Linked DNA regions of Homo sapiens. The protein of the gene in region 1 interacts with the protein of each later gene in a pairwise test. Each region holds a gene or a part of one and is shown in the gene's direction. Other genes may lie near its edges.

Region 1 (7,886 bases):
TGTTCCTTTTCATGTCCTAATTAAGTAGAAGGGAAGAATAGAGCAGATTCCTGTTGCCATTGCGGCAAAGGTATGATTCTGTCTCATGAGAACTTCTTAGGTAGAGCTCCTCTGGTTGGGGAAGGTGAGGGTTAGGAGAGGTTGGGAGATAGATGGTGTGGGGGCAGTGGGGAATGCAGGTAATCCCATTTCGTATGCAGGTATATTTTCTATATTTTAGGAAAAGTACTCCAGTCATCTTATATAAGAATTCTCAATCTTCAGGGCTGTAGACCCATACCAAAAAATTGCAGCATCCTCACACTCACAGTGTGGCCTGAAACCTTCCCAATAAAGATAGTACCCTTAGTTGTAATGAAAGTTAATATGTTCTGGCTGGGCGTGGTGGCTCACGCCTATAATCCCAGCACTTTGGGAAGCCAAGGCGGGTAGATCACTTGAGGTCAGGAGTTCAAGACCAGCCTGGCCAACATGGCGAAACCCTGTCTCTACTAAAAATACAAAAATTAGCCAGGCATGGTGGCATGTGCCTGTCGTCCCAGCTACTCAGGAGGCAGAGGCAGGAGAGTCGCTTGAACCCAGGAGGCAGAGGTTGCAGTGAGCTGAGATCACGCCATTGCACTCCAGCCTGGGTGACAGAGAAAGACTCTGTCTCCAAAAAAAAGGAAAGTTAATATGTTCAAAGAAGGCTGTTAAGGGATTTAATAGAAGAAATGAAGATACAGCATAGCTGTCTCTTATTTATCTACAGGACAAAAGGCAAAGTAGTAAAAAATTTAGAAGATTTACATAACACTATTAACAAGCTTAATTTTTTGGATATATAATCTTGGGTCTAGTGTTTTAGATTTCTAGAGAAGTTAACACATTTTTTTTTTCTTGAGACGGAGTCTCACACTCTCACCCAGGCTGGAGTGCAGTGGCACAATCTTGGCTCACTGCTACCTCCACCTCCCGGGTTTAAGCGATTCTCCTGCCTCAGCCTCCTGAGTAGTTGGGACTACAGGCGTGTGCCACCATGCCTGGCTAATTTTTGTATTTTTAGTAGAGACAGGGTTTTCCCATATTGGCCAGGCTGGTCTCGAACTCCTGACCTTGTGATCTGTCCGCCTCAGCCTCCCAAAGTGCTGAGATTACAGGCGTGAGCCACTGCACCCAGCCGATAACACATTCTTTTTTTTTTTTTCCTTTTTTGAGACTGTCTCTCTCTCTGTTGCCCAGGCTGGAGTGCAGTGGCGCGATCTCAGCTCAGTGCAAGCTCTGCCTCCCAGGTTCATGCCATTCTGCTGCCTCAGCCTCCCAAGTAGCTGGGACTACAGGCTCCCGCCACCACGCCCACCTAATTTTTTTGTATTTTTAGTAGAGATGGGGTTTCACCATGTTAGCCAGGATGGTTTCCATCTCCTGACTTCGTGATCCGCCTGCCTCGGCCTCCCAAAGTGCTGGGATGACAGGTGTGAGCGACCTTGCCCGGCCCGATAACACATTCTTAAGCGGGCAGGAACCATTTACAAAAGTTGATTATGTACTAAGCCATAAAATAAGCCTCAATGATCTGTTTCTTGTACAGACTACATTCTCAGACTACAGTGTAATTTGCTTAGAAGTCAATAACAAACCTGTAAGGTGTCTTTATTTTGAAATTTTATTATTTTTCTTTTTTTCTTTTTCTTTTTCTTTTTTTTTTTTTAAGACAGTCTCACTCTGTTGGCAGGCTGGAGTGCAGTGTTGCGATCTCAGCTCACTGCAACCTCTACTTCCCGGGTTCAAGTTCCTGTCTAAGCCTCCCGAGTAGCTGGGACTATAGGCACCTGCCACCACACCCAGCTAATTTTTTGTATTTTCAGTAGAGACGGGGTTTCACCATGTTGGCCAGGATGGTCTCAATCTCTTGACCTCATGATCCGCCTGCCTCTGCCTCCCAAAGTGCTGGGATTACAGGCATGAGCCGCTGCGCCTGGCCTTTTTCTTTTTCTTTTTTTTTTTTTTGAGATGGAGCCTTGCTCTGTTGCCTAGGCTGGAGCGCAGTGGCGAGATCTCAGCTCACTGCAGCCTCCGCCTCCTGGGTTCCAGTGAGTCTCGTGCCTCAGCCTCCCGAGTAGCTGGGATTACAGGCGCTACCATGCCCGGCTAATTTTTTGTATTTTAATTAGAGACCGGGTTTCGCCATGTTGGTCAGGCTTGTCTTGACCTTCTGACCTTAGATGATCTGCCCATCTCAGCCTCCCAAAGTGCTGGGATGACAGGTGTGAACCACCACACCTGGCCATCTGTTTTGGAATTTTAAAGGAAGAAAGTTTCACATCCATATGGGGAAAACTGGAACCCATACAGTAAGCCACAGGACACTAATGGGGACCTTTGGGAGAGATACTGTTGGAAACATCTGTGTTGCCTTATGCAGGGTGCATATGTGTATTATGTTATACTGTTGCAGAAATAGGGCCTTGTGCAACTAATTTACGCTTCTTGAGGGCAGGAACATTTTCATTACTTTTTCCTCAGCACTAAGAAATGTCTGACACAGGCGGTTCAAGACCAACCTACCCAACATGGTGAAACTCCGTCTCTACTAAAAATACAAAAATACAAAAATTAGCTGGGTGTGATGGTGCACTCCTGTAGGCTGAGACAGGAGAATTGCTTGAACCCTGGAGGTGGAGGTTGTAGTGAGCTGACGTTGCGTCACTGCACTCGAGCCTGGGCGACAGAGTAGACTCCGTCTCAAAAAAAAAAAAAAGACACCTTGTGTTTACCAAAAAAATTAAAAAATTAGCCGGGTGTAGTGGTTCCTGCTTTCAGTCCCAGCTGCTCAGGAGGCTGAGATGGAAGGATCACTTGAACACAGGAGTTGGAGGCTGCAGTAAACTGTGATCATGCCACTGCATTCTAGTCTGTGTGACAGAATGAGACCCTGTGTCAAAAACAAAAAGAAGAAGAAATGTCTGGCAAAGAGTAGGTTGAGTAAGTAAATAAGTACTTGCATCCTTTTTTTTTTTTTTTTTTTTTTTTTTTTAAAGAGAAACGTCTTACTACTTTGCCCAGGCAGGTCTCAAATGCCTGGGCTGAAGTGATCCTTCTGCCTCAGTCTCCAGAAGTAGCTGTGACTGCAGGCATGTGCCACTGCATCTGGCTGTTGCATACTTTTATACCTAAATGCAGAGAACATTTCAAGTCATTTATTAGGACAGCAGCTGCCCTTATTGGAGATTGATGTGTTAGGCACTGTGACAAATGCTCTTCCTACTTGTCCTGACCCATTTTCAAACATCCCTCTGAGATGACAGTATTCTTACCATGTTACGCACGGGTGAAGACAGCTGAGACTGAAAGATTAAGTTGCACACCTCTTTGAAACTTGACTTTTCTCATTTCAAACACATACACTGCAGATTCCCTTAGCTTTGAGTACAGATTCATCCTTTTGCTAGTGGGAACAGCTGTGGCAGCCTTATTTTGCCTTTGAAAGGATGTATTACAGTTCTTAAAGGCTGCCATTTACCTCATTTTGAGCCTTTTCGAGTACTTGTTACTTTTTGGAACGTGATTAGGATATGTTAGTTTGCTTACAGATTTTGTAAGTGTTTGTTTAACACTAAGAGCCTGTGGATATAAAAACATGTATATGCTACAGGCCAAAAAAAACCATGTATTTTTACCACTGGGAAAAGTCTTTTACAAACCCCTTCAGCAGGGTCAGTTTGACTCAGGGCCTGGATCTTAACTTTATGTTCTCTCACTGTGGGACCCCCCTCCCCCTCCCCGCCAACCATGAAGACACAACTCCTGGGTCTGCCTGTGTCTGCCAGTCCTTGCTTCAAATGACCTTGTCTTTGAGTGCTAGGATGAAGCCCAGTCTACTAGTGACTTTTTCCAACAGTCTACAGCTGTGTTTCTGTCTGGCTTTTACTTTATTTCCAGGTTCTCTTGCCACATCAATATCCCAGATGGTAAAGACTGAAGGGAAAGGAGCAAAGAGAAAAACCTCCGAGGAAGAGAAGAATGGCAGTGAAGAGCTTGTGGAAAAGAAAGTTTGTAAAGGTTTTCAGACAATTTGAAAACAAATGTATTAGACTTCATATTTTAAAACAACCCAGAGCAAAACCAGTTTCAGCTTTCTAATAATACTTTCTTTTTATGTCTGTATTTAAGAAATAAGTAGGGTTCCCTTTTTGCAAATGAATTTCCAAGTTTCTCTGTGCTTTCTCCTACTTTTCATGTACATCTATCTCTGATCCTACCTTTGATCAGATAGGAAACCTACATTTGTTCCTCAAGAGTTAAAAAATACAGGTGGTTTTTTTCTTAGCCTTCTGCAGTGAATGGTTAGTTTTTTGACCACCTAGTCTCTCTCTGACTTCCAATCTTTGTTTGCAGTTTGTCAATTAGTGCTTTGAATTACGTGATTTAGCTTAGTAGGCAGCTTCCCTAAGCCTGGAAAAAGCCGTTGAAATTTGTAGTCAGTTGTGTAACTTGTCAAAGTTAGTGAGGAAGAAAACGAAAAGTATTAACTAAAGAGAATACTTCAGTTGTGGTACTAAAGTATTCTTGAGCTGTGGGATTTTCTTTTTTTCTCTTTTTTTTGAGACAGAGTCTCGCTCTGTCGCCCAGGCTGGAGTGGCACCATCTCGGCTCACTGCAAGCTCCGCCTCCCGGGTTCATACCATTCTACCTCAGCCTCCCGAGTAGCTGGGACTACAGACGCCTGCCACCACGCCTGGCTAGTTTTTTGTATTTTTAGTAGAGACGGGGTTTCACCATGTTAGCCAGGATGCTCTCGATCTCCTGACTTTGTGATCTGCCCGCCTCGGCTTCCCAGAGTGCTGGGATTACAGGCGTGAGCAACCGTGCCTGGCCCGAGCTGTGGGATTTTCATTGACTGCATTGTCCTTTGTCACAGATTACCTCAGTGAAAGCTGTATGATGCAGGCAGAGGTATGTGAAAAAACCCACTTGTAGCTTTGCTGGGAAGATGTCATCTTCAACTTAGCTTGTCACTTCCCAGAAGACAGCTCTTCACAGTGTTCATTTTATTATTTGTCTGGCATTAGGTATCAGAAAATAAGCTTAAATGAGTCTAACCATTAAATGTAAATAGATCTCTGCCTGCATTGGAATCTTTTATCCTTTTCTTCCTCAGTTGAAGTAAAAGCAGCTGATCTTACTGTTTGTTCAAATTCTTCACCAGCCTTGAGCATGGAAATACATATTTTCAGGGCATCTTAAGGGCTTTTGAGATAAACTCTCCTGACTTGCATTTGTCCTTATTCAATTATCACAAGACTAATTTGCACATGATCCTTTTGCCTGATTTGAATCTCACTTCTCTGGGATGGCAGCACATCCCTTGCCCTGATGCTTTGACTTACACCCTAGACAGAGTTGTTTTGTGCTCACTGACTCCTCTTTTGTGTCCCTGTGCAACCTCTTAGAGCTCACCCTGTCCAACAGTGCTCCGATTTGAGTTATAGACTTGCAGCTGGGGGAGATGCCTTAAGGGGTATTGCTTATTTGTTTGCGCCATTAGGATATTGCTGAGTCAGACAGTCATAGTTCCCTCTCATTTGCTCTGGGACTAGGGTTTCCAGAGGGTTGGGCACAGTTTTGTATTGGCTCTTTTGTTCTCTTTTCCTTAGCCTCTTCGGTGATCTTTGGTCTGAAGGGCTATGTGGCTGAGCGGAAGGGTGAGAGGGAGGAGATGCAGGATGCCCACGTCATCCTGAACGACATCACCGAGGAGTGTAGGCCCCCATCGTCCCTCATGTGAGTCTCATGTGGTAGGAAGCCCGGCTGGCATTAACATCTCCTGGGTTCTGACTGGCATTTTGGACTGGCTAGTTTGTATTTACTAGAAAATCTAACACATCACTTGATTGTACATCAGTGATTCTCAGCTGGGGTTGATTTTGCTCCCCGCCCAGGGGACATTTGTCAGTGTTTGGGTACATTTTTGTCACAACTGCGGGAGGGAGTTGTTACTGGCATCTGGTGGGTAGAGACTAGGGATGCTGGTAAACATCTTAGAAGCACAGGGCAGCCCCACAACAAAGAATTGTTCAGCCTGGAATGTCAGTAGTGTCGCGGTTGAGCAGCCCTGCTGAGCGGGAGATGACGCTTCATAGCATGGCTCTGCAGCGTGTGTTACTCCTTACCAGCAACTGAGCGGCTTCTGGCAGAGAATATTTTTAATCCATGACCTAGAAGATAAGAGTTGGAAGCCACTAATTAAAGTATGAATGGTGATCAAGCAGAGCTAGTACAGATAATCAGGGCCCAGGAAGAACAAAAGTCAAAATGATGTCAAGGAAAAGACAGACAATGAAAAATTAGCTGCAACTATACAAACTAAAATGAAGCCTTCTGGATAAGCTCTTGGGCCTGGAAAAAAACCAGAAGGTAGGACATTAAGTTGGCTGTAAACATACATTATAGTACATATTACATAGGTTACATAATTCAGAATTACATAATAAATACATTACGTACCTTTACTGACACCAGTTGGTCATTAACATACAGTGTGCTGGAGCCGTTTGGGCTGATGGCGTTTGTCCAGTAGATGAGGTCTGCTCATGGAGATGAGGTGATGGCTGCTGCAGAGCAGCTGATCATATGTAGAGGGGACGAGATACACACCCATTGAGACAGGGTCTTGCTGTCTTGCTCAGGCTGGAGTACAGTGGCACAATCATAGTTCATTGCAGGCTTGACCTCCTAGGCTCAAGCAGTCCTCCCACCTCAGCGTCCTGAGTAGCTGGGACCATAGGCATGTGCCACCACAGCCGGCTAATTTTTTGAATTTTTTGTAGAGACAGTGTCTCCTTAAGTTGCTCAGGCTTGTCTCAGAGTCCTGGGCTCAAGCCATCTTCCCACCTTGGTCTCCCAAAGTGCCAGGATTACTCGCATGAGCCACCATACCCAGCCTGGGATTTGCATTAAAACCAGGAAAGGGACCTCTGGAGCCCAAGAAGGCAGATCCATTGAGTGTAAATTTAATTGGGAACACTACATCATGCCTTGCAAATAACAGGCAGTAAGAACAGCTCTGAGTTATAAACCAGATGAGGTTTTTTTTCTCATGGCTCAGGATGTCCTAAATTGAAAAGGAATTCCAAAAAACTTGAAAGAAAAGCAGCTCTCTAGAATAAATGTCATTTCTCGTGGGCATTTTTGTTTTTTTTTTTTCCTTGAAATAGTTTATTTGATGTCTTTTATTCCATATATGTGGGTTTTCTGGCAAAATTTGAAAGGGGAATGGGAATAAGAGTAGTAAGATAGGTTTTAAAAATGAGATATTTAAAATTTATTTGAGTAACAATTCTGTAATATCCTCCCTGCTCTTATGCAGTCATGTGCTGAATAACAACATCAAGTCAGTGATGGACTGCATATATGACGGTGCTCCCATAAGATTACAAATTTTGTAGAGATGGGGGTCTCGCTATGTTGCCCAGGCTGGTCTTGAACTCCTGGCCTCAAGTGATCCTCCTGCCTTGGCCACCTCCCGAAGTGTTGGGATTAACAGGCGTGAGCTGTCGTGTTCAGCCATAATACCATGTTTACTGTACCTTTTCTATGTTTAGGTATGTTTAAATACACAAATACTACCAGTGTGTTACAACTGCCTATGGTATTTAGTGCAGTAACATGCTGTGCAGTTTAGCCTAGGAGCAATAGGCTCTACCATGTATGTAGCTTAGGTGTGTAGTAAGCTGCGCCGTGTTAGTTTCTGTAAATATGTTCTATGATGTTCACACAACAAAGTCACCTAACAATGCATTTCTGTTAAGTGATGCATGACTGTATTTTTTACTGTTTTCGATAAATAACTTGATCTGTTTGTTAATGTTTAAAACCAAATCCGATTTAAATAGGAACGGAGTTCT
Region 2 (7,886 bases), on another chromosome or scaffold:
CAAGAGACTGAGGCAGGAGAATCACTTGAGCCTGGGAAGCGGAGGTTGCAGTGAGCCAAGATTGTGACACTGCACTCCAGCATGGACAGCAGAGTGAGACCCTGTCTCAAAAATAAATAAATAAATAACGCAAGTTATTGGTTGTTATGAAAGTAACATCTGACCATTACAAGACATTTTAAAATATAGAAAAGTCTGAAGAGTAATGTCAGATCACCCCTAATGTTACCACCCAGTAGTGACTTGTTTGCGTTTTGGCCCACCCCCTTCCATCAGCCCTTTTCCCATGTATGGATGGTCCTGGGATATTCACTTTGACATTTTGTTTCTCCATTAACATTATCTCCCAGTGCGGTGGCTCACAACCTGTAATCCCAGTACTTTGGGAGGCCAAGACGGGTGGATCTCTTGAACCCAGGAGCTTGAAACCAGTCTGAGCAACATGGCAAAAACCCGTCTCTACAAAAAATACAAAAATTGTCCAGGCGTGGTGGCACACCTACTTGGGTGGTGGAGGTGGGAGGATTGCTTGAGCCCAGTAGTTCAAGGCTGCAGTGAGCCATCATGGTGCCACTACGCTCCAGTCTAGGCAACAAAACAAGACCTTTTCTCAAAAACAAAAAACAAAAAACACCATTATTGCTCAGTAGTTCCTAATATTCGTAAAAATATTTCCCTTCCACCCACCAGCTTTTGAGCTTTTCACTGCTTCTCAGATTTTACACTTAGGTTTGGTGGAGTGAGGCGAAAATAGAATTCATTGCTTGTCCTCATTCCTTGCAAGTGTGTCTGTAATGTCATGAATATGGAAGCTCACGTGGCTGATGGTTGACAGCTTCGACAGTTCTCACCTCTGTCTTAGTCATGCCCGGTTCACCAGTCCAGGCAGCAGGGTAACCAAGGCTGGGCTGGGAGCTGGAAGCAGCAATTGGTGAATGAGTGGGCACCCGCGGATAAAGAGAGAGCAGCCGGTGAAGCGAGGCTGGGCTCACCATGCACCTGGAGATCTCCTCCTGGGGTGCAGGCCCGCGTGTCTCTACTCCGAAGTGCAGGAAATAAACACTGGCACTAATGACCTTCCTGATGTGTGATTCAGCAGCTCCAGATTTGGCATTGCCTCTGGCTCAGCAGATCAGACACAAATCTTCAAGAATGTGTTCATTATGGGAGAACAAATTTTAAGAATGAAATTATCAGTCATTCAAATTGCGGTCTAGGCACTCTGGAGCACTCCAGACCTTAAAGCTGTCCTGCAATGAAGGATGGCCCTGTGCCCTGTAAGGAACAAAAGCAGGTTGTAGGACAGAACTGTGTTAGAGGTGCTTTTTTGCTTATTGTTTTGTTTCTGGCAAAAGGAAAATGAGTGGGAGTTTGTGTGTGAGCACACACAGGCTCCTGACTTTTACGAGGTTTTGGAAAGATGGATATCAAACTTTTAGCAGTGATTTCCCCAGACCTACAAAAGTGTTCAAATACAAGACTTTTTTTTTTTTTTTTACAGTGAGTAGGAATTACTTTTGTAATTAAAAATAAATCAAAGCATGAAAAAAATGTATGATTTTGGACCAGTCAATTCTTAGAATCTTGTATCGCAGGTTTGTACTTACAGGGCATAAATGGAAGGATATTTATTGCAGAATCACTTGTGAGAGCTAAACATAAAACAGACTGTTTATCAGTAGGGCTGGATGGGGCAGTTGGAGACGCCTGTGCTGTGGAGTGGCATGCAGCTGTGGGAGAACACACATATCTATCTGCTCCAACATGAGCTGCTGTCCAAGAGATTTTATTCTGCCAAAAAAACAGGAGCAGGAAAATATGGATGACACGATTCTATTTAAAATCAAGTTCATTTAGGCCGGGTGTGGTGGCTCACGCCTGTAATCCCAGCACTTTGGGAGGCCAAGGCAGGCGGATCACCTGAGGTCAGGAGTTCAAGACCAGGCTGGCCAACAGTGCAAAACCCTGTCTCTACTAAACATATAAAAATTAGCCAGGCATGGTGGCGGGCGCCTGTAATCCCAGCTAGTCGGGAGGCTAAGGCAGGAGAATCACTTGAACCCAGGGGGCAGAGGTTGCAGTGAACTGAGATCCCACCACTGCCCTCCAGCCTAGGAGATAGAGCGAGACTCCATCTCAAAAATAAATAAATAAACAAACACTCTGTCTCAAAAATAAATAAAATAAAGTTCATTCAACATTCGAATTAAGAAAACCATATAAAACTACTGTGTCTATATGTCAGAATAGTTGAATATCGGTTGTTCCATGTGGTTCAACCTAAAATATACATAAAGTTAGGAGAACACGAAACTTAACCATTTATAGCCTTTGGGAAAGAGGACTGTTAGAAATACTATCTTTTGAAAGGCCACATTTCTGTAATACTACAGTTTTTCCCAGTAAGCATGAGTCATGTTGGTAATGTTAAGTAGATAATAAAAGCAGGTGATGGTGTCAGTGTGAGCTCACACCTCTGGTCTTGGCGTGAGAGTGGCCTGGACTCTCCTGCTAACCTTAATAATGAAAAATGAACCAAACCCTAGTAAAAAAGAATGAATCGGCATCCCCAGTGCCCCGAAGATTTCTGGAACACCTGCCTCAGAACCCTTTCAGAGGGGAAGCTGCTAGGTGGGGCCAGAAGAAAGTTTTGTTTGTGGTTTTACTTGATTTCTTCTTATTTGGGGGAGCAGGGGTGGGGCAAGGCTGGGTTTTGGGACAAGGTGCTTTTTTCCTAAGGTGGCAGTAGCATGTTCACTTTTAGAACCGAGTTAGCTCTTTTAGGCCTCACACTGACCAGAAATCACTTGTTTGCTTCCAGATGAGAAGCGCTTTGCCCCCTGGCCATGGGGCCCTCTAAGTCTGATATAGTTATTTGCAAGGTTAAGGAGAAAACAGAACACCGTGGTTTTCTGGGGATGTGGGAAAGTGGCTCTCTAGAGAACTCACCTTCCACCAGGCTTAGGGTCAGCGTCCTGAAACGGCACCACTTTGTCTTACATTCAATTGCTTTGACGTGTGGGGTGCTTGGGGCCACGCAGCCTGGGAGGAGCCAGCCCTGCCTGGAGTCCTGCTCAGAATCTGAGGTCACCTCAGCCTGCCTGGTGTGCCCCCTGTACCTTTCTGTAAATCCTGTAGAGGGAGACAAAGAGTTACTTTTCCCTGTGATTTAAAAAAAAAAAAAATGCAGGGAAGGTAGCTGGTGGCCTTGAATCTTGGTACCCAGTGCTTTCCAAGAATTCTTGTGCCCCTGTTGCATATTGTATTGGGTCAAGAGCATGGACTACTGGTGCTCTTTTAAATCTAGTGCATGTTTAATTATTACCCTAAAAGAATCTGTCATCATTAGATAAAAATGTGAAGAAAACATTAAAATGTTGAATGAGGAAAAGGATCGTGTCTAATCCCAGTACCAAGTTTCACTCACCTTGGACAAGGGTCTCCAGTGAATTTCATGAACTTGTCAGTAGCTGGGGAGACCTTGATAAAAGTGAAATTGGGCAGAGCACCTATCTCCGATGGTATTCAAACATCAGGAACAGAAAGCGGATGTGGTCGTTATTAAGATCATTAGAATTCATTTACTTTTTATACTGCATATTCCCGCTTGTTTCCAGGTTGGGCAGTTTTGGGTTTTGTTTCCCCAGGATGCAGCCGGGTGTGCATTTTTTGGTGCATCATGTTTTTTAAGGTGTGGTGTGCCCTTTTACCCCATTGTGTAACTTAGGTGATGACACACGTGCACGTGAAGATTTTGGCTGGAGGTGGAGAGTGGGTTGGTAGAGAACTTAGAGTAGAAAAGGGATGTTTTCTGAAAAATCACGAAAGCCTTATTGTTCACAGGTCCCCGAGACAGCAGCAAGATGGGGATTCTGTACATCTTGGTCCCCAGCATCGCAATTCCACTGGTCATCGCTTGCCTTTTCTTCTTGGTTTGCATGTGCCGGAATAAGCAGAAGGCATCTGCGTCCACACCGCAGCGGCGACAGCTGATGGCCTCGCCCAGCCAAGACATGGAAATGCCCCTCATTAACCAGCACAAACAGGTCTCCATGCCTTACATTTTCTACCCGGGTGGCTCTTCCAGGTTTAATCCTCAGGGGTTGTTTCCCCCAACATTAAATGTCTTAATTTACTTGATACATAGCACATAATTATTTTAAACTCCGCTTCATTTTGCCATTTTTTTTTTCTGTAAACTAGATCAGGACATGTGTGCTTTAGAAAATAAATGGCAGGCGTGTTGGGAATTCACTGCCCCAGAGTCCATGGGCCTCCTTCTGCCTGGACCATGCTGCCCCTGTGGGCCCCAGCGAGTGTCCTCACTGTCCAGGTGCCTCAGCTCTGCCCAGAAGACACACAAGAACAACAGGGCTCCAATGCTCCCCATAATTTTTCTTGACACTTTTGGGTTGGGTTGGTTTTGCTTTGTTTTGTTTACAGGGAAGGATAGGAGAATAGCTCTTAAATGGGAGTAGGTGGACAGGCTACCACTAAAAGGCCACCCCTCATCCCAGAGCAGCCTTAGATGGGGGTGGGGCACTGAAATACAACAGATGAGAACATGTGCTGCAGCCTCTCCAGGTTGTGTTGTAAAAGGGCATTTACACTCATTGCAAGCCGTAGGTAACATCATTCTCAGCCAGCTTTGCAGGGGCTCTTCAAGGTGGCCAGGAGGGAGCTGATGCACTTGGCTCTTCAGTCCCAGAGTCGGTGAGAGTTTGCTATGGGCAGGGGCTGGCCAGCGAGGAGGGCACAGAGCCCCGGGGCTTGCACGGAGGCCCAGGAACCTCTGGGGAGGATGAGGGCTGGCCACACGGGAGGAGCTGGTGTCATAGAGGCCGAGAGAGATGCAGGGTTCTCAGGGCTCCTATCACCTGTGGGGTACTCTTTCCAGGAACATGTTTAACAGAGACCCTAGTCAAGAGGCCCATGGACAGGCCCATTGAGGGAACCTCTGTAGAACAACTGGCTTGGACTCTTATAAGTGACAAAATTGCCAAGACAAAAATGTCGTGGGAAAGCCTCTGTGGGGTCCATGAGAAAAAGACATCACATCTCACGTGATGTGTCGGCACACATGGGGGTTGGAGGGAACCTGGCAGGGTATGTCCGGGGCAGCCCCAGGGCAGCTGGTGCCTGGGCCTGGCTGTAGGGTGTGTGTGTGTGTCCACACATGCACAAGTGGGAAGGAAGTCAGTGTGTCCCAGCTGGATTTTGGAGGGACCTTATTTGTAGCCTGGTTGGGATCTGTGGAAGATTGCAGATGGGAAGCAACCTTGGCATCAGAGCCGTATTTAAGGTTAACTAGAGAGCTGTGGGTGGGCAGGCCAAGGCTGGGTGGGCAAAACCAGCGGGTCTTCTGCAAGGCCCCCCTAGTCGTGGCCGCACAGGGACTCCACTCCTCCCGGCTGCTCTGCAGCTTCCTCCAGGGCTGCGGTGACAGTGATGTTTCACGTGGGGCTTTTCTTCTTGACAGGCCAAACTCAAAGAGATCAGCCTGTCTGCGGTGAGGTTCATGGAGGAGCTGGGAGAGGACCGGTTTGGGAAAGTCTACAAAGGTCACCTGTTCGGCCCTGCCCCGGGGGAGCAGACCCAGGCTGTGGCCATCAAAACGCTGAAGGACAAAGCGGAGGGGCCCCTGCGGGAGGAGTTCCGGCATGAGGCTATGCTGCGAGCACGGCTGCAACACCCCAACGTCGTCTGCCTGCTGGGCGTGGTGACCAAGGACCAGCCCCTGAGCATGATCTTCAGCTACTGTTCGCACGGCGACCTCCACGAATTCCTGGTCATGCGCTCGCCGCACTCGGACGTGGGCAGCACCGATGATGACCGCACGGTGAAGTCCGCCCTGGAGCCCCCCGACTTCGTGCACCTTGTGGCACAGATCGCGGCGGGGATGGAGTACCTATCCAGCCACCACGTGGTTCACAAGGACCTGGCCACCCGCAATGTGCTAGTGTACGACAAGCTGAACGTGAAGATCTCAGACTTGGGCCTCTTCCGAGAGGTGTATGCCGCCGATTACTACAAGCTGCTGGGGAACTCGCTGCTGCCTATCCGCTGGATGGCCCCAGAGGCCATCATGTACGGCAAGTTCTCCATCGACTCAGACATCTGGTCCTACGGTGTGGTCCTGTGGGAGGTCTTCAGCTACGGCCTGCAGCCCTACTGCGGGTACTCCAACCAGGATGTGGTGGAGATGATCCGGAACCGGCAGGTGCTGCCTTGCCCCGATGACTGTCCCGCCTGGGTGTATGCCCTCATGATCGAGTGCTGGAACGAGTTCCCCAGCCGGCGGCCCCGCTTCAAGGACATCCACAGCCGGCTCCGAGCCTGGGGCAACCTTTCCAACTACAACAGCTCGGCGCAGACCTCGGGGGCCAGCAACACCACGCAGACCAGCTCCCTGAGCACCAGCCCAGTGAGCAATGTGAGCAACGCCCGCTACGTGGGGCCCAAGCAGAAGGCCCCGCCCTTCCCACAGCCCCAGTTCATCCCCATGAAGGGCCAGATCAGACCCATGGTGCCCCCGCCGCAGCTCTACGTCCCCGTCAACGGCTACCAGCCGGTGCCGGCCTATGGGGCCTACCTGCCCAACTTCTACCCGGTGCAGATCCCAATGCAGATGGCCCCGCAGCAGGTGCCTCCTCAGATGGTCCCCAAGCCCAGCTCACACCACAGTGGCAGTGGCTCCACCAGCACAGGCTACGTCACCACGGCCCCCTCCAACACATCCATGGCAGACAGGGCAGCCCTGCTCTCAGAGGGCGCTGATGACACACAGAACGCCCCAGAAGATGGGGCCCAGAGCACCGTGCAGGAAGCAGAGGAGGAGGAGGAAGGCTCTGTCCCAGAGACTGAGCTGCTGGGGGACTGTGACACTCTGCAGGTGGACGAGGCCCAAGTCCAGCTGGAAGCTTGAGTGGCACCAGGGCCCGGGGTTCGGGGATAGAAGCCCCGCCGAGACCCCACAGGGACCTCAGTCACCTTTGAGAAGACACCATACTCAGCAATCACAAGAGCCCGCCGGCCAGTGGGCTTGTTTGCAGACTGGGTGAGGTGGAGCCCTGCTCCTCTCTGTCCTCTGACACAGAGAGCTGCCCTGCCTAGGAGCACCCAAGCCAGGCAGGGGGTCTGGCAGCACGGCGTCCTGGGGAGCAGGACACATGGTCATCCCCAGGGCTGTATACATTGATTCTGGTGGTAGACTGGTAGTGAGCAGCAAATGCCTTTCAAGAAAATAGGTGGCAGCTTCACTCCATGTCATATATGGAGTGAATATTTCAAAACGTTGGGAATAAGGGCCTGCAAAAGGCAGCGAGGAGGCACCTCGGGTCTTGAGGTTCCTGACAACCGATCTGGTCTGTTGGTTTGAGGATGAAGGGGCTCCATTTCTGCTGCCTCCCTGCTGAGAATATTCTCCCTTTAGCAGCCAAAGATTCGCTGGAACGGAGGCTGCCCTCTGCTGCCTGTTGGGGTCGGAAGACAAGGGGCTTCTGAAATGGGAGTTCCTGAGATACAACAAAATGTGTGCCTTCAAAGAAACTGACAGCTTTGTATTTGGTGAAATGGTTTTAATTATACTCCATGTGTATTTTGCCCACTTTTTTTGGGAATTCAAGGGAAAGTGTTTCTTGGGTTTGGAATGTTCAGAGGAAGCAGTATTGTACAGAACACGGTATTGTTATTTTTGTTAAGAATCATGTACAGAGCTTAAATGTAATTTATATGTTTTTAATATGCCATTTTCATTGAAGTATTTTGGTCTTAAGATGACTTTAGTAATTTAACTGTTTATGTTACCCACGTTGGGATCCAGTTGGTCTTGGTTTGCTTCTCTCTGTACCACGTGCACATGAGGTCCATTCATTTTACAGCCCCTG
Region 3 (5,313 bases), on another chromosome or scaffold:
CCTCGCCCTCGGCGGGGCCCCTGAGTCTGGCGGAGGGAGGAGCGGAGGATGCAGACTGGGGCGTGGCCGCCTTCTGTCCTGCCTTCTTCGAGGACCCACTGGGCACGTCCCCTTTGGGGAGCTCAGGGGCGCCCCCGCTGCCGCTGACTGGCGAGGATGAGCTAGAGGAGGTGGGAGCGCGGAGGGCCGCCCAGCGCGGGCACTGGCGCTCCAACGTGTCAGCCAACAACAACAGCGGCAGCCGCTGTCCAGAGTCCTGGGACCCCGTCTCTGCGGGCGGCCACGCTGAGGGCTGCCCCAGTCCAAAGCAGACCCCACGGGCCTCCCCCGAGCCGGGGTACCCTGGAGAGCCTCTGCTTGGGCTCCAGGCAGCCTCTGCCCAGGAGCCAGGCTGCTGCCCCGGCCTCCCTCATCTATGCTCTGCCCAGGGCCTGGCACCTGCTCCCTGCCTGGTTACACCCTCCTGGACAGAGACAGCCAGTAGTGGGGGTGACCACCCGCAGGCAGAGCCCAAGCTTGCCACGGAGGCTGAGGGCACTACCGGACCCCGCCTGCCCCTTCCTTCCGTCCCCTCCCCATCCCAGGAGGGAGCCCCACTTCCCTCGGAGGAGGCCAGTGCCCCCGACGCCCCTGATGCCCTGCCTGACTCTCCCACGCCTGCTACTGGTGGCGAGGTGTCTGCCATCAAGCTGGCTTCTGCCCTGAATGGCAGCAGCAGCTCTCCCGAGGTGGAGGCACCCAGCAGTGAGGATGAGGACACGGCCGAGGCCACCTCAGGCATCTTCACCGACACGTCCAGCGACGGCCTGCAGGCCAGGAGGCCGGATGTGGTGCCAGCCTTCCGCTCTCTGCAGAAGCAGGTGGGGACCCCCGACTCCCTGGACTCCCTGGACATCCCGTCCTCAGCCAGTGATGGTGGCTATGAGGTCTTCAGCCCGTCGGCCACTGGCCCCTCTGGAGGGCAGCCGCGAGCGCTGGACAGTGGCTATGACACCGAGAACTATGAGTCCCCTGAGTTTGTGCTCAAGGAGGCGCAGGAAGGGTGTGAGCCCCAGGCCTTTGCGGAGCTGGCCTCAGAGGGTGAGGGCCCCGGGCCCGAGACACGGCTCTCCACCTCCCTCAGTGGCCTCAACGAGAAGAATCCCTACCGAGACTCTGCCTACTTCTCAGACCTCGAGGCTGAGGCCGAGGCCACCTCAGGCCCAGAGAAGAAGTGCGGCGGGGACCGAGCCCCCGGGCCAGAGCTGGGCCTGCCGAGCACTGGGCAGCCGTCTGAGCAGGTCTGTCTCAGGCCTGGGGTTTCCGGGGAGGCACAAGGCTCTGGCCCCGGGGAGGTGCTGCCCCCACTGCTGCAGCTTGAAGGGTCCTCCCCAGAGCCCAGCACCTGCCCCTCGGGCCTGGTCCCAGAGCCTCCGGAGCCCCAAGGCCCAGCCAAGGTGCGGCCTGGGCCCAGCCCCAGCTGCTCCCAGTTTTTCCTGCTGACCCCGGTTCCGCTGAGATCAGAAGGCAACAGCTCTGAGTTCCAGGGGCCCCCAGGACTGTTGTCAGGGCCGGCCCCACAAAAGCGGATGGGGGGCCCAGGCACCCCCAGAGCCCCACTCCGCCTGGCTCTGCCCGGCCTCCCTGCGGCCTTGGAGGGCCGGCCGGAGGAGGAGGAGGAGGACAGTGAGGACAGCGACGAGTCTGACGAGGAGCTCCGCTGCTACAGCGTCCAGGAGCCTAGCGAGGACAGCGAAGAGGAGGCGCCGGCGGTGCCCGTGGTGGTGGCTGAGAGCCAGAGCGCGCGCAACCTGCGCAGCCTGCTCAAGATGCCCAGCCTGCTGTCCGAGACCTTCTGCGAGGACCTGGAACGCAAGAAGAAGGCCGTGTCCTTCTTCGACGACGTCACCGTCTACCTCTTTGACCAGGTGGGCCGCCGCCACCCGGGGTCTGCCCGGGGCTGGGGGTCGCGCTCCCGCAGGAAGGGGTGGGAGCGGCCGCGGCTCCTGGCGGCCGAGCTACCTGGTGCTCTCTGATTCCTCCAGGAAAGCCCCACCCGGGAGCTCGGGGAGCCCTTCCCGGGCGCCAAGGAATCGCCCCCTACGTTCCTTAGGGGGAGCCCCGGCTCTCCCAGCGCCCCCAACCGGCCGCAGCAGGCTGATGGCTCCCCAAATGGCTCCACAGCGGAAGAGGGTGAGCAGGGGCGGGGCTGGGCCCGTGACGTCACGGGAGGCAGGGCCTGGTCCGTGCTGTGTGGGAGGCGGGGCCTAATGTGTGACATCATGGGAGGAGCACCTGGTCCTTGACGCGTGGGAGGCGGGCTTTGGCCCGTGTCGTCATGGGAGGCGGGTCTGGTACGTGACGTCACGGAAGGCGGGGCCTTGTCCGTGCTGCATGGGAGGCGGGGCCTGGGCCCGTGACATCATGGGAGGCGGGGCCTGGGCCCGTGACATGATGGGAGGCGGGGCCTGGGCCCGTGACTGTGGGAGCGGGGCCGGGCCGGGGTCCCAGGCTGTGAGCGCGAGTGACGCCGCGACCTGGGCTGCAGGTGGTGGGTTCGCGTGGGACGACGACTTCCCGCTGATGACGGCCAAGGCAGCCTTCGCCATGGCCCTAGACCCGGCCGCACCCGCCCCGGCTGCGCCCACGCCCACGCCCGCTCCCTTCTCGCGCTTCACGGTGTCGCCCGCGCCCACGTCCCGCTTCTCCATCACGCACGTGTCTGACTCGGACGCCGAGTCCAAGAGAGGTGAGGCCTGGGCGGGGCTGTGGCAGAAGGGCACGCGGGAGGCAGGGCACGGAGCTCCGAGGGTGGGGCCCCTCCGTCTAGGTCCTGGGCCGGGCCAGCCCCGGCTCCGCTCCGCTCCGCTCCTTCCCGGCCCCGCTCCTTCCCGGCCCCAGACCTAGCCTGGACCCCGCCTGGCCCTCGCCTGGCCCTCACCTGACCCTCACCTGACCCTCACCTGACCCTCACCTGACCCTCACCTGGCCCTCACCTGGCCCCTGCACTCGGCTCTCCTCTGCCTGACCCTACCCCGCAGACCTGCGGCAGGCCCTCTCACCGGAACCTTCCCAGCCAGAAGTCCCTGCAGACCCAGGTCCCACGGTGCCCCGGCCCCACGGTGCCCAGGTGGAGCCCTGCTGGGGGCCTGAGCCACCGCTCCCGGCCATGGCCCTCCACTATCCGCCCCACCCCAGGCTGGGCTCATCTCTGCCAGGTGTCCCTACCCCTACAGCCTCTGCCCACGTGCCTGACAAGTGCCCACCTCCTCGGAGAAGGCCCCCTGCCAGCTTCCTCTTCCCTAGCTGTCCTGGCCTGTGGCTGCAGCCCTGGGGGAAGGGCCTGTCAGCCTCACCCCTGGTGCAGGGTGCCCCCTGTGTGGCTGAACAAGCAGGCAGGTCACCAGGAGGCCACTGCATGACCTTGGCCATCCCCTTCCTGTTCAGGCCTCAGTTTCCTTATGCGTAAAACAGGACTCGGAGGCATTTGCTGAGAGTTGTTGGCCTGAGTCCAGTGACAGGAGTGGGGGAAATGGGTCCATCTCTCACCTAGACACAGCCAGATCTGCTGCAGGGAAGGGGCCCGGCCTGTATGTGGGCCAGGGATGGAGGCCAGGTGGGAGTTGCGGGGGAGGCAGCCCTGGTGTCTCAGAACCCTGTGTTCACTTTGTTGTCCTGCTTGCCAGGACCTGAAGCTGGTGCCGGGGGTGAGAGTAAAGAGGCTTGAGACCTGGGCAGCTCCTGCCCCTCAAGGCTGGCGTCACCGGAGCCCCTGCCAGGCAGCAGCGAGGATGGTGACCGAGAAGGTGGGGACCACGTCCTGGTGGCTGTTGGCAGCAGATTCAGGTGCCTCTGCCCCACGCGGTGTCCTGGAGAAGCCCGTGGGATGAGAGGCCCTGGATGGTAGATCGGCCATGCTCCGCCCCAGAGGCAGAATTCGTCTGGGCTTTTAGGCTTGCTGCTAGCCCCTGGGGGCGCCTGGAGCCACAGTGGGTGTCTGTACACACATACACACTCAAAAGGGGCCAGTGCCCCTGGGCACGGCGGCCCCCACCCTCTGCCCTGCCTGCCTGGCCTCGGAGGACCCGCATGCCCCATCCGGCAGCTCCTCCGGTGTGCTCACAGGACACTTAAACCAGGACGAGGCATGGCCCCGAGACACTGGCAGGTTTGTGAGCCTCTTCCCACCCCCTGTGCCCCCACCCTTGCCTGGTTCCTGGTGGCTCAGGGCAAGGAGTGGCCCTGGGCGCCCGTGTCGGTCCTGTTTCCGCTGCCCTTATCTCAAAGTCCGTGGCTGTTTCCCCTTCACTGACTCAGCTAGACCCGTAAGCCCACCCTTCCCACAGGGAACAGGCTGCTCCCACCTGGGTCCCGCTGTGGCCACGGTGGGCAGCCCAAAAGATCAGGGGTGGAGGGGCTTCCAGGCTGTACTCCTGCCCCGTGGGCCCCGTTCTAGAGGTGCCCTTGGCAGGACCGTGCAGGCAGCTCCCCTCTGTGGGGCAGTATCTGGTCCTGTGCCCCAGCTGCCAAAGGAGAGTGGGGGCCATGCCCCGCAGTCAGTGTTGGGGGGCTCCTACCTACAGGGAGAGGGATGGTGGGGAAGGGGTGGAGCTGGGGGCAGGGCAGCACAGGGAATATTTTTGTAACTAACTAACTGCTGTGGTTGGAGCGAATGGAAGTTGGGTGATTTTAAGTTATTGTTGCCAAAGAGATGTAAAGTTTATTGTTGCTTCGCAGGGGGATTTGTTTTGTGTTTTGTTTGAGGCTTAGAACGCTGGTGCAATGTTTTCTTGTTCCTTGTTTTTTAAGAGAAATGAAGCTAAGACAAAAGAAACCTTTGTGTGTTGTCTTCTGAGGTCTGCCGATGATAAAGTCCTGGACAGGAGGGGCTGTGCCAGGAACCCGATGCCAGCCCTTCCTGGGGCCAGGAGGAAGCTGCCCCTCTCCTCTCCTCCCCACTGTCCTCGGCACACCCCGGTGGAGGGGATGGTGTTCTGGCCCTACTGTGTGTGGGGGCGCAGGGGTAGCGCCCTGCAGGTCTCCCTTCCTGCAGGCCGAGTTGGCCTGGTAGGGACGGGTGAAGAATGGACCTACAGGCCTCTCCAGGACAGCCTCCTCCCTGCCCTTCTGAGGGCAATGTCTGTCTGTCCCTGGGCCCAGGGTGGAAGGCGGAGGCAGGAGAGTTGAGCACAGCTGGGCTTCCCTGCACCCTCCGCTGGCCAGCTCTCAACTGCCCTCCTGGCCCGCCAACTCTACAGCTTCCTGTCCCCGGGGTGTGAGTGGCTGTAGGCGGGAGTGAGCTCTGCTGGAGACACCTCCCCAGCCAGGTAAGGG
Region 4 (7,886 bases), on another chromosome or scaffold:
CATCAGACACAGCGTACTTTCTTATCCAAGAAGGATGACTTAGCAAGCGTTCATGGCTCGCAGATGAGGTCATGAAGCCCAGGAGGCTTCAGCAAAACTCCTTACCCACTTTCTGCCCAGAAAGTCACTCTTCATGCCTGCTTTTTTTTCTGACCTGGTTTTTGGATTGGGTATATGTTTTCTGAGAATACCATGGATTTAAATTCTTGAACTCACCAAAAGTATAATTCTATTCAAAATTCTGTGTGCTTTCTAACAAAACAGGAGGATTATATTGAAACAGATGATAAAAAAGTTTTCCCTCTGCGATGGACTGCTCCAGAATTAGTAACCAGCTTTCAAGACAGACTGCTAACTGCAGATCAGACTAAGTATAGTAATATCTGGTACGTATTGGCTTACCGTTTTATTAGTCATTTCTTTGGCAAAGTCCTAACTTCTTCCTCTTTGAGTACTTCCTTAAAGGAAAGTAGTTGTATAAGATGTAGGAACAAAAGAGTATCTGATGGTGTGAAAAAGACAGTTTAAAAGACACAAATAGTAATTATCACAATTGTGGTGATGGAGTTAACGTTTTGAATACTGCCCCTGCTACCCATTTTCCTTTAGAAAAGCAGGAACCAAGTCTGTTTCATATTCTGTGCCTCCCACAGGGCCTGACATGTAATAGATATTTAATATGTATTTATTGAAGTGAAAGAAGAAACTGAAAGGGGTGTGGACTATCATGTTTATACTATGATTTATAGGAGTCAGTTTAATGGGAGCTAAAAAGATGCACCTAAAACTTTGACTAACAATTTCTGTCACAGCCTTCTTAATTTATAGCTATGTTTTATGTGCTGTTGTCCTGCTTTTTTTTTTCTCTCCTTGCTTTCTTTTGGATTGATTTCTTTAAAACAATTTTTTTGCTTTTATTATTTTTTTCATTGATGCATATAATTGGACATATTTATGGGGTACAGTGATATATATATATGTTTTTGTTGTTGTTGTTGTTGTTGTTGTTTTGAGATAGAGTCTCACTGTCGCCCAGGCTGGAGTACAGTGGTGTAGTCTCGGCTCACGGCTCACTGCAGTGTCCACCTCCCTGGTTCAAGTAATTCTTGTGCCTCAGCCTCCCGAGTAATTGGGATTACCAATATGTACTACCACACCATTTTTGTACTTTTAGTAGAGATGGAGTTTTGCCATGGCTGGTCTCGAACTCCTGAACTCAAGTGATCCGCCTGCCTCGTCCTCCCAAAGTACTGGGATTACAGGCGTGAGCCACCGCACCTGGCCCAGTGTAATATTTTGATACCTATATACAGTGTGTGATGATCAAATCAGGGTAACTAGTATCCCCTTCACTCCAGACATGTATCATTTTTTCTTTTTGTTTTTGGGAACATTCAAAAGCCGCTCTTAGAGCTGTTTGAAAATATACAAAAATTTGTTGTTAATTATAGTCACCCTTCAGTGCTTTAGAACACTAGATCTTATTCCTCCTTCCCAGCCGAAATTTTGTATTCGTTAGTCAGCTTCTCACTATTCCTCCTCTCCCTCCCCTTCCCTGCCTCAAGTAATCACTCTTCTACTCTCTACTTCTATGAGATCAACCTTTTTATCTTCCACGAGTGATGAGGTTTTCTTCCTTTTTCTTTCCCCCTTGTGTATCTGCTCTACCTAGTGTATCGTGAGTCTGATACTTCTGTGTTTTTTCATGTTGATGGTTATCCTCCTTTAGCTTCCAGATACAGGACTCCTGGACCATTTCTCTTAAGGCATGTCTCATAATGATGAATTCCTTCAGTTTTTGCTTATCTGGGAAAGACTTTATTTCTCCATTTTTTAAAAAAAGTTATTATTATATATATTTTTTTAGTAGAGACGAGGTCATGCTGTGTTGCCCAGGCTGGTCTTGAACTCCTGGCCCCAAGCAATCCTCATGCCTTAGTCTCCTAGAGTGCTGGGATTATAGTCATGAGCCATCGCGCCCAACCCTCCTTCATTTCCGAAGGATATCTTTGCAGGGCATAGTGTTCTTGGCTGCCAATTTCAGTACTTTGAGTATACCATCCTATTCTCTGCTTCCCTCCTATGTGACTTAATGCTTTTCTCTGGCTGTTTTTAGAATTTTTATCTTTGTCTTTGGCTTTTGACAATTTGACTATAATGTGCCTCTGAAATGACCTTTTGGGGTTGATTGTATTTTAAGGACCTTTGAGCTTCCTGGATCTGGATGTCTGTATCTCTCCCAAGACTTGGGAAGTTTTTAAGCTGTTCTTTCCTTAAATAGCCTTTCTCTGCCTTCTCCTAGCTCTTTTATTTCTGTAACTCCCATAATGTGTGTATTTGTTTGCACTGTAGTCTCCCATAAGCCCTGAAGCCTCCCTTCACTCCTTTTCATTCTTCTGTCTTTTTCCCTCTGACTGGGTGATTTCAAACAACCTTTCTTCAAGTTGAGAGGTTCTTCTGCTTGAGTCTGTTGTTGAAGTTCTGTATTTCTTTTTATTTCATTTATTGAATTCTTCAGCTGGGCTTACTGCCTGTGAGGACCCCAGGCGACCCCAGTGTGAGGACTGTAGTGTCCACGGTGAGCAGTGTGAGGATGTAGGGGTCCACAGTGAGATCCTCTTACTTGCCCTTACCTGGAAGAGAAAGTTGCTCCTGGTTCCTGGCTGCGCCTGCCAGGGATGGGGTGGTGGAGGCCAGGCGTTTCCTTCCGCTCTCGCTGTGGCTGTCCTGAATCTCCTGAGTACCTGTTACTCCTTTGATGGGCTCTGGTGCTCTCCTTTAGTGATTTTTGTCAAAATGTAGTTGCTTCTTTGTTGTTTGGGGCGTGTCGTGGAGGGTTAGCTGGACATCAGAATCACTGGGGAACTTTTTAAAACGTGAGTTTTCTAGGCCACACCTGGATCTACCAACTAAGCATCCTTTAGGGGTGGATCTGACCTAGCAGTGTGTGTGTTCACGGCTTCCCAGAGGACACAGATGAGAGTCACGTTCGGGAACATTGCAGTAAATAGACACAAATGCGGGATGGAGGCAGTGCGTGGTGGGGAGGAAATGCAGAGACCTCGTGGAGGAAATGAGAGGCAGCTCCTCTGACCCAGGAAGCCAGCAGAGGCTGTTTCCATGGGGACAGAGCACCGCAGTGTGAGAGAGGATTGGGCTGGGACTGAGAAGGGCGTTCCTGCTGTGGTGAGGCAGCCCTCAGGGTCTCTCCTGGCACACAGCTGCCAGCGTGATGGGGGATCCCTTCAGAATAGCAGCAAAACCCACGATACTGAGGAGTAACTCAAACCAAACTTGTGGGTCTCACAGAGAGGATATCGTCTTGCCCATGTAAAGATTCCTTTTAGATGGTTTCTGGTGTTTACTAATGTTGTTAATAGGTGTATTTTTCTACCAAAAAAAAAAAATCAGAATTCAGGGTATTTATCTTGTTTCCAGCAATTCTGCCAAATTTTTAGAACATTCTGATGGTCTTTCCAATAATTTATTGAGTACTTAAAAGTTGATAGTCATCTCATCCACATAATTACACCTATTATCTCTGTTTTGTACTTTTTTCATTGGCCAAAACTTCTAGGGTGGTATTCAGTAGCAAATAGGAGGCATGGTCTTCCTCATTTTAACAGAAATGCCTCTTTTTTTGCTATTGTGCTGTTGATTATTGGTTTCAGATTAAAGAACAATCTTGGCTGGTTGTGGTGGCTCACGCCTGTAATCTCAGCACTTTGGAAGGCCAAGGCAGGTGGATCACCTGAGGTCAGGACTTTGAGAGCAGCCTGGCCAACGTGGTGAAACCCTATCTCTACTAAAATTATAAAAATTGGCAGGGCATGATGGCTTGTGCCTGTAATCCCAGTTACTTGGGAGGCTGAGGCAGGAGAATCACTTGAACCCGGGAGGCAGAGGTTGCAGTGAGTGGAGATCACACCATTGCACTCCAGCCTGGGCGACAGTGAGACTCTGTCTTAAAACAACAACAACAACAACAAAGATCCTATTAATAATCTTTTCAATACACACCTTGTCCTTAAAATTACTGGCTATGTAACAAGTATGAGTGTTAAAAATTTGACATCTAAAGGGAGAGAGAAACAGCCATTTTCTTTTTCCAACAGGTCTCTGGGTGTGACACTTTGGGAGCTTTTTGACAATGCCGCACAGCCGTATTCAAACCTTTCCAACTTAGATGTCCTCAACCAAGTCATTAGAGAGAGAGACACAAAACTCCCGAAGCCCCAGCTGGAGCAGCCCTACTCTGATAGATGGTTGGTAGCCTCACATTCCGCCTGTTCTGTTTCGTCTTCACTGTGAGGTGTCCCCAAAACACAAAAAAATTCGTGGGCCAAATATTATGTTTCTTCATTTCCTCTTTCACCATGATGTCACCATGAGCTGAACTACTTAATGTGGTTGGCAGTGATGAAGGTGTAGAAATGTTTCGGGTGTTGAGTTGGCTTTAGGGTCCTTGTAAATTCTTTTCATATTGTTTATTTATTTATTTTTATTTAAAAAAAAATGTAGAGACAGGGTCTCAGTATGTTGCCCAGGCTGTTCTTGAACTCCTGGCTCAAGTGATCCTCCCACTTCAGCCTCCCATTGCCCCAGGATTACAAGTGTGAGCCAGGGTGCCTGGCCTCTTTTGATATTTTTAACTGATTCGGCCAGGCACAATGGCTCATCCCTGTAATCCCAGCACTTTGGGAGGCTGAGGTGGGCAGATCACGAGGTGAGGAGTTCAAGACCAGCCTGGCCAACATGGTGAAACCCCGTCTGTACTAAAAATACAAAAATTAGCTGGGCGCGGCAGCGGGCGCCTGTAATCCCAGCTGCTCGGGAGGCTGAGGCAAGAGAATTGCTTGAACCCAGGAGGCAGAGGTTGCAGTGAGCCGGGATCATGCCACTGCACTCCAGACTGGGTGACAGAGCAAGACTCCGTCTCGAACCAAAAAAAAAAAAAAAATTCGTGATGGTTCCACTGATTGCTTGTCGTGTGCTGCTCAGGTATGAAGTCTTACAGTTCTGTTGGCTGTCACCAGAAAAGAGACCCGCGGCTGAAGATGTGCACAGGCTGCTGACTTACCTGCGGCTGCAGAGCCAGCGGGACTCAGAGGTCGACTTTGAACAGCAGTGGAACGCTCTGAAGCCGAACACAAACAGCAGAGACTCCTCCAACAATGCTGCATTCCCAATTCTCGACCACTTTGCCAGGGACCGGCTGGGTCGTGAAATGGAGGAAGTCCTCACCGTGACCGAAACCAGCCAGGGCCTGAGCTTCGAGTATGTCTGGGAGGCCGCTAAGCACGACCACTTTGACGAGCGCAGCCGGGGCCACCTGGACGAAGGCTTGTCCTACACGAGCATCTTCTATCCGGTTGAAGTTTTTGAGAGTTCGCTTTCAGATCCTGGGCCCGGAAAGCAAGATGACAGCGGCCAGGATGTCCCCCTGAGGGTCCCTGGAGTGGTTCCTGTTTTTGATGCCCACAACCTTTCTGTTGGAAGCGACTATTATATCCAGTTAGAAGAAAAAAGTGGTAGTAACTTGGAGCTTGATTACCCACCAGCGCTGCTCACAACCGACATGGATAATCCAGAAAGGACTGGCCCTGAACTGTCCCAGCTCACGGCGCTCAGGAGCGTTGAACTTGAGGAGTCCAGTACAGATGAGGACTTCTTCCAAAGCAGTACAGACCCCAAAGACTCTAGCTTACCAGGGGACTTACACGTGACCAGTGGCCCCGAGAGCCCTTTCAACAATATATTTAATGATGTGGACAAATCGGAAGATTTGCCCAGTCACCAAAAAATATTCGACTTAATGGAATTAAACGGAGTTCAAGCCGACTTTAAACCTGCCACTTTAAGTTCCAGTTTGGATAACCCCAAAGAGTCAGTCATAACAGGCCACTTTGAGAAAGAAAAGCCCCGTAAGATTTTTGACAGTGAGCCTCTCTGCCTATCAGATAATCTTATGCACCAAGATAATTTTGATCCATTGAATGTTCAAGAATTGTCAGAAAACTTTTTATTTCTTCAAGAGAAAAACTTACTAAAAGGCTCATTGTCCAGCAAAGAACACATAAATGATCTTCAGACAGAACTTAAGAATGCTGGTTTTACTGAAGCTATGTTAGAAACGTCATGTAGAAACTCTTTAGATACTGAGCTTCAGTTTGCTGAAAATAAGCCAGGCTTGTCTTTGTTGCAGGAAAACGTAAGCACAAAGGGTGACGATACAGATGTCATGCTCACAGGTGACACTTTGAGCACCTCATTGCAGTCTTCCCCGGAAGTGCAGGTACCTCCTACCTCCTTCGAAACAGAAGAAACGCCCCGTCGGGTACCCCCAGACTCACTCCCAACACAGGGAGAAACCCAGCCCACGTGTTTAGATGTTATTGTCCCGGAGGACTGTCTCCACCAGGACATCAGTCCAGACGCTGTGACTGTCCCGGTTGAAATTCTCTCAACTGATGCCAGAACCCACAGCCTGGATAACAGGTCCCAGGACTCTCCTGGCGAGAGTGAGGAGACCCTGCGACTCACCGAAAGTGACTCTGTTCTTGCTGATGACATCCTTGCCAGCAGGGTGAGTGTAGGGAGTAGTCTCCCGGAACTGGGACAGGAATTGCACAATAAACCATTTTCGGAAGACCATCACAGTCATCGCCGGCTAGAGAAAAACTTAGAGGCTGTGGAGACTTTAAATCAGCTCAATTCTAAAGACGCAGCAAAAGAAGCAGGCTTGGTGTCTGCCCTCTCCTCGGACTCAACCAGTCAGGACAGCCTCCTGGAGGACAGCTTGTCAGCACCCTTCCCAGCCTCTGAGCCGTCCCTGGAAACCCCGGACTCTCTGGAGTCAGTGGATGTCCACGAAGCGCTACTGGACTCTTTAGGATCTCACACTCCCCAGAAACTAGTGCCCCCCGATAAGCCGGCAGACAGTGGCTACGAAACAGAGAACTTGGAGTCTCCCGAGTGGACCTTGCATCCCGCTCCCGAGGGCACCGCAGACTCAGAACCAGCCACCACGGGCGATGGCGGCCACAGCGGTCTGCCTCCCAACCCGGTCATTGTCATCTCAGATGCCGGCGATGGTCACAGAGGCACAGAAGTGACCCCTGAGACGTTCACAGCTGGCTCCCAGGGTTCATACCGAGACTCTGCGTACTTCTCAGACAATGACTCTGAGCCCGAGAAAAGGTCTGAGGAGGTCCCGGGAACCTCCCCATCCGCCTTGGTGTTGGTACAGGAGCAGCCCCTACCCGAGCCAGTCCTCCCCGAGCAAAGTCCTGCTGCCCAGGATAGCTGCCTGGAAGCCAGAAAGAGCCAGCCAGATGAAAGTTGTCTGTCTGCTTTGCACAACTCCAGTGACCTGGAATTAAGAGCCACGCCGGAGCCAGCACAGACTGGTGTTCCCCAGCAGGTGCATCCCACGGAAGACGAGGCCAGCAGTCCCTGGAGTGTGCTGAATGCAGAACTTAGCAGCGGCGATGACTTCGAGACACAGGACGATCGCCCCTGCACCCTCGCTTCCACGGGGACCAACACGAACGAACTCCTTGCCTACACCAATTCTGCGCTGGACAAGTCCCTGTCCAGCCACTCCGAGGGCCCGAAGTTGAAGGAGCCGGACATCGAAGGGAAGTACCTGGGGAAACTCGGGGTGTCAGGGATGCTCGACCTCTCAGAGGACGGGATGGATGCAGACGAGGAGGACGAAAACAGCGACGACTCGGACGAGGACCTGCGGGCCTTCAACCTGCATAGCCTCAGCTCCGAGTCGGAGGACGAGACCGAGCACCCCGTGCCCATCATCCTCAGCAACGAGGACGGAAGGCACCTGCGGAGTCTGTTGAAGCCCACAGCGGCCAATGCCCCCGACCCAC

What was found.
Region 2: the proteins of ILKAP (region 1) and ROR2 interact in a two-hybrid assay, tested with the Homo sapiens proteins (one study listed by BioGRID and IntAct).
Region 3: the proteins of ILKAP (region 1) and AATK interact in a two-hybrid assay, tested with the Homo sapiens proteins (one study listed by BioGRID and IntAct).
Region 4: the proteins of ILKAP (region 1) and LMTK2 interact in a two-hybrid assay, tested with the Homo sapiens proteins (one study listed by BioGRID and IntAct).

The regions. Positions count from the first base shown.
Region 1 is NC_000002.12:238,186,008-238,193,893, reverse strand, and holds part of ILKAP (integrin-linked kinase-associated serine/threonine phosphatase 2C), read left to right. Parts: intron 1-3,921; coding exon 3,922-4,041; intron 4,042-5,636; coding exon 5,637-5,763; intron 5,764-7,886. UniProt on the Homo sapiens protein: Protein phosphatase that may play a role in regulation of cell cycle progression via dephosphorylation of its substrates whose appropriate phosphorylation states might be crucial for cell proliferation.
Region 2 is NC_000009.12:91,722,701-91,730,586, reverse strand, and holds part of ROR2 (tyrosine-protein kinase transmembrane receptor ROR2 isoform 1 precursor), read left to right. Parts: intron 1-3,843; coding exon 3,844-4,046; exon of another isoform or gene 4,047-4,140; intron 4,141-5,479; coding exon 5,480-6,925; 3' UTR 6,926-7,886. UniProt on the Homo sapiens protein: Tyrosine-protein kinase receptor which may be involved in the early formation of the chondrocytes. It seems to be required for cartilage and growth plate development. Phosphorylates YWHAB, leading to induction of osteogenesis and bone formation.
Region 3 is NC_000017.11:81,116,795-81,122,107, reverse strand, and holds the end of AATK (serine/threonine-protein kinase LMTK1), read left to right. Parts: coding exon 1-1,907; intron 1,908-2,024; coding exon 2,025-2,172; intron 2,173-2,527; coding exon 2,528-2,728; intron 2,729-3,665; coding exon 3,666-3,706; 3' UTR 3,707-4,813; downstream 4,814-5,313. UniProt on the Homo sapiens protein: May be involved in neuronal differentiation.
Region 4 is NC_000007.14:98,186,613-98,194,498, forward strand, and holds part of LMTK2 (serine/threonine-protein kinase LMTK2 precursor), read left to right. Parts: intron 1-264; coding exon 265-386; intron 387-4,115; coding exon 4,116-4,265; intron 4,266-5,001; coding exon 5,002-7,886. UniProt on the Homo sapiens protein: Phosphorylates PPP1C, phosphorylase b and CFTR.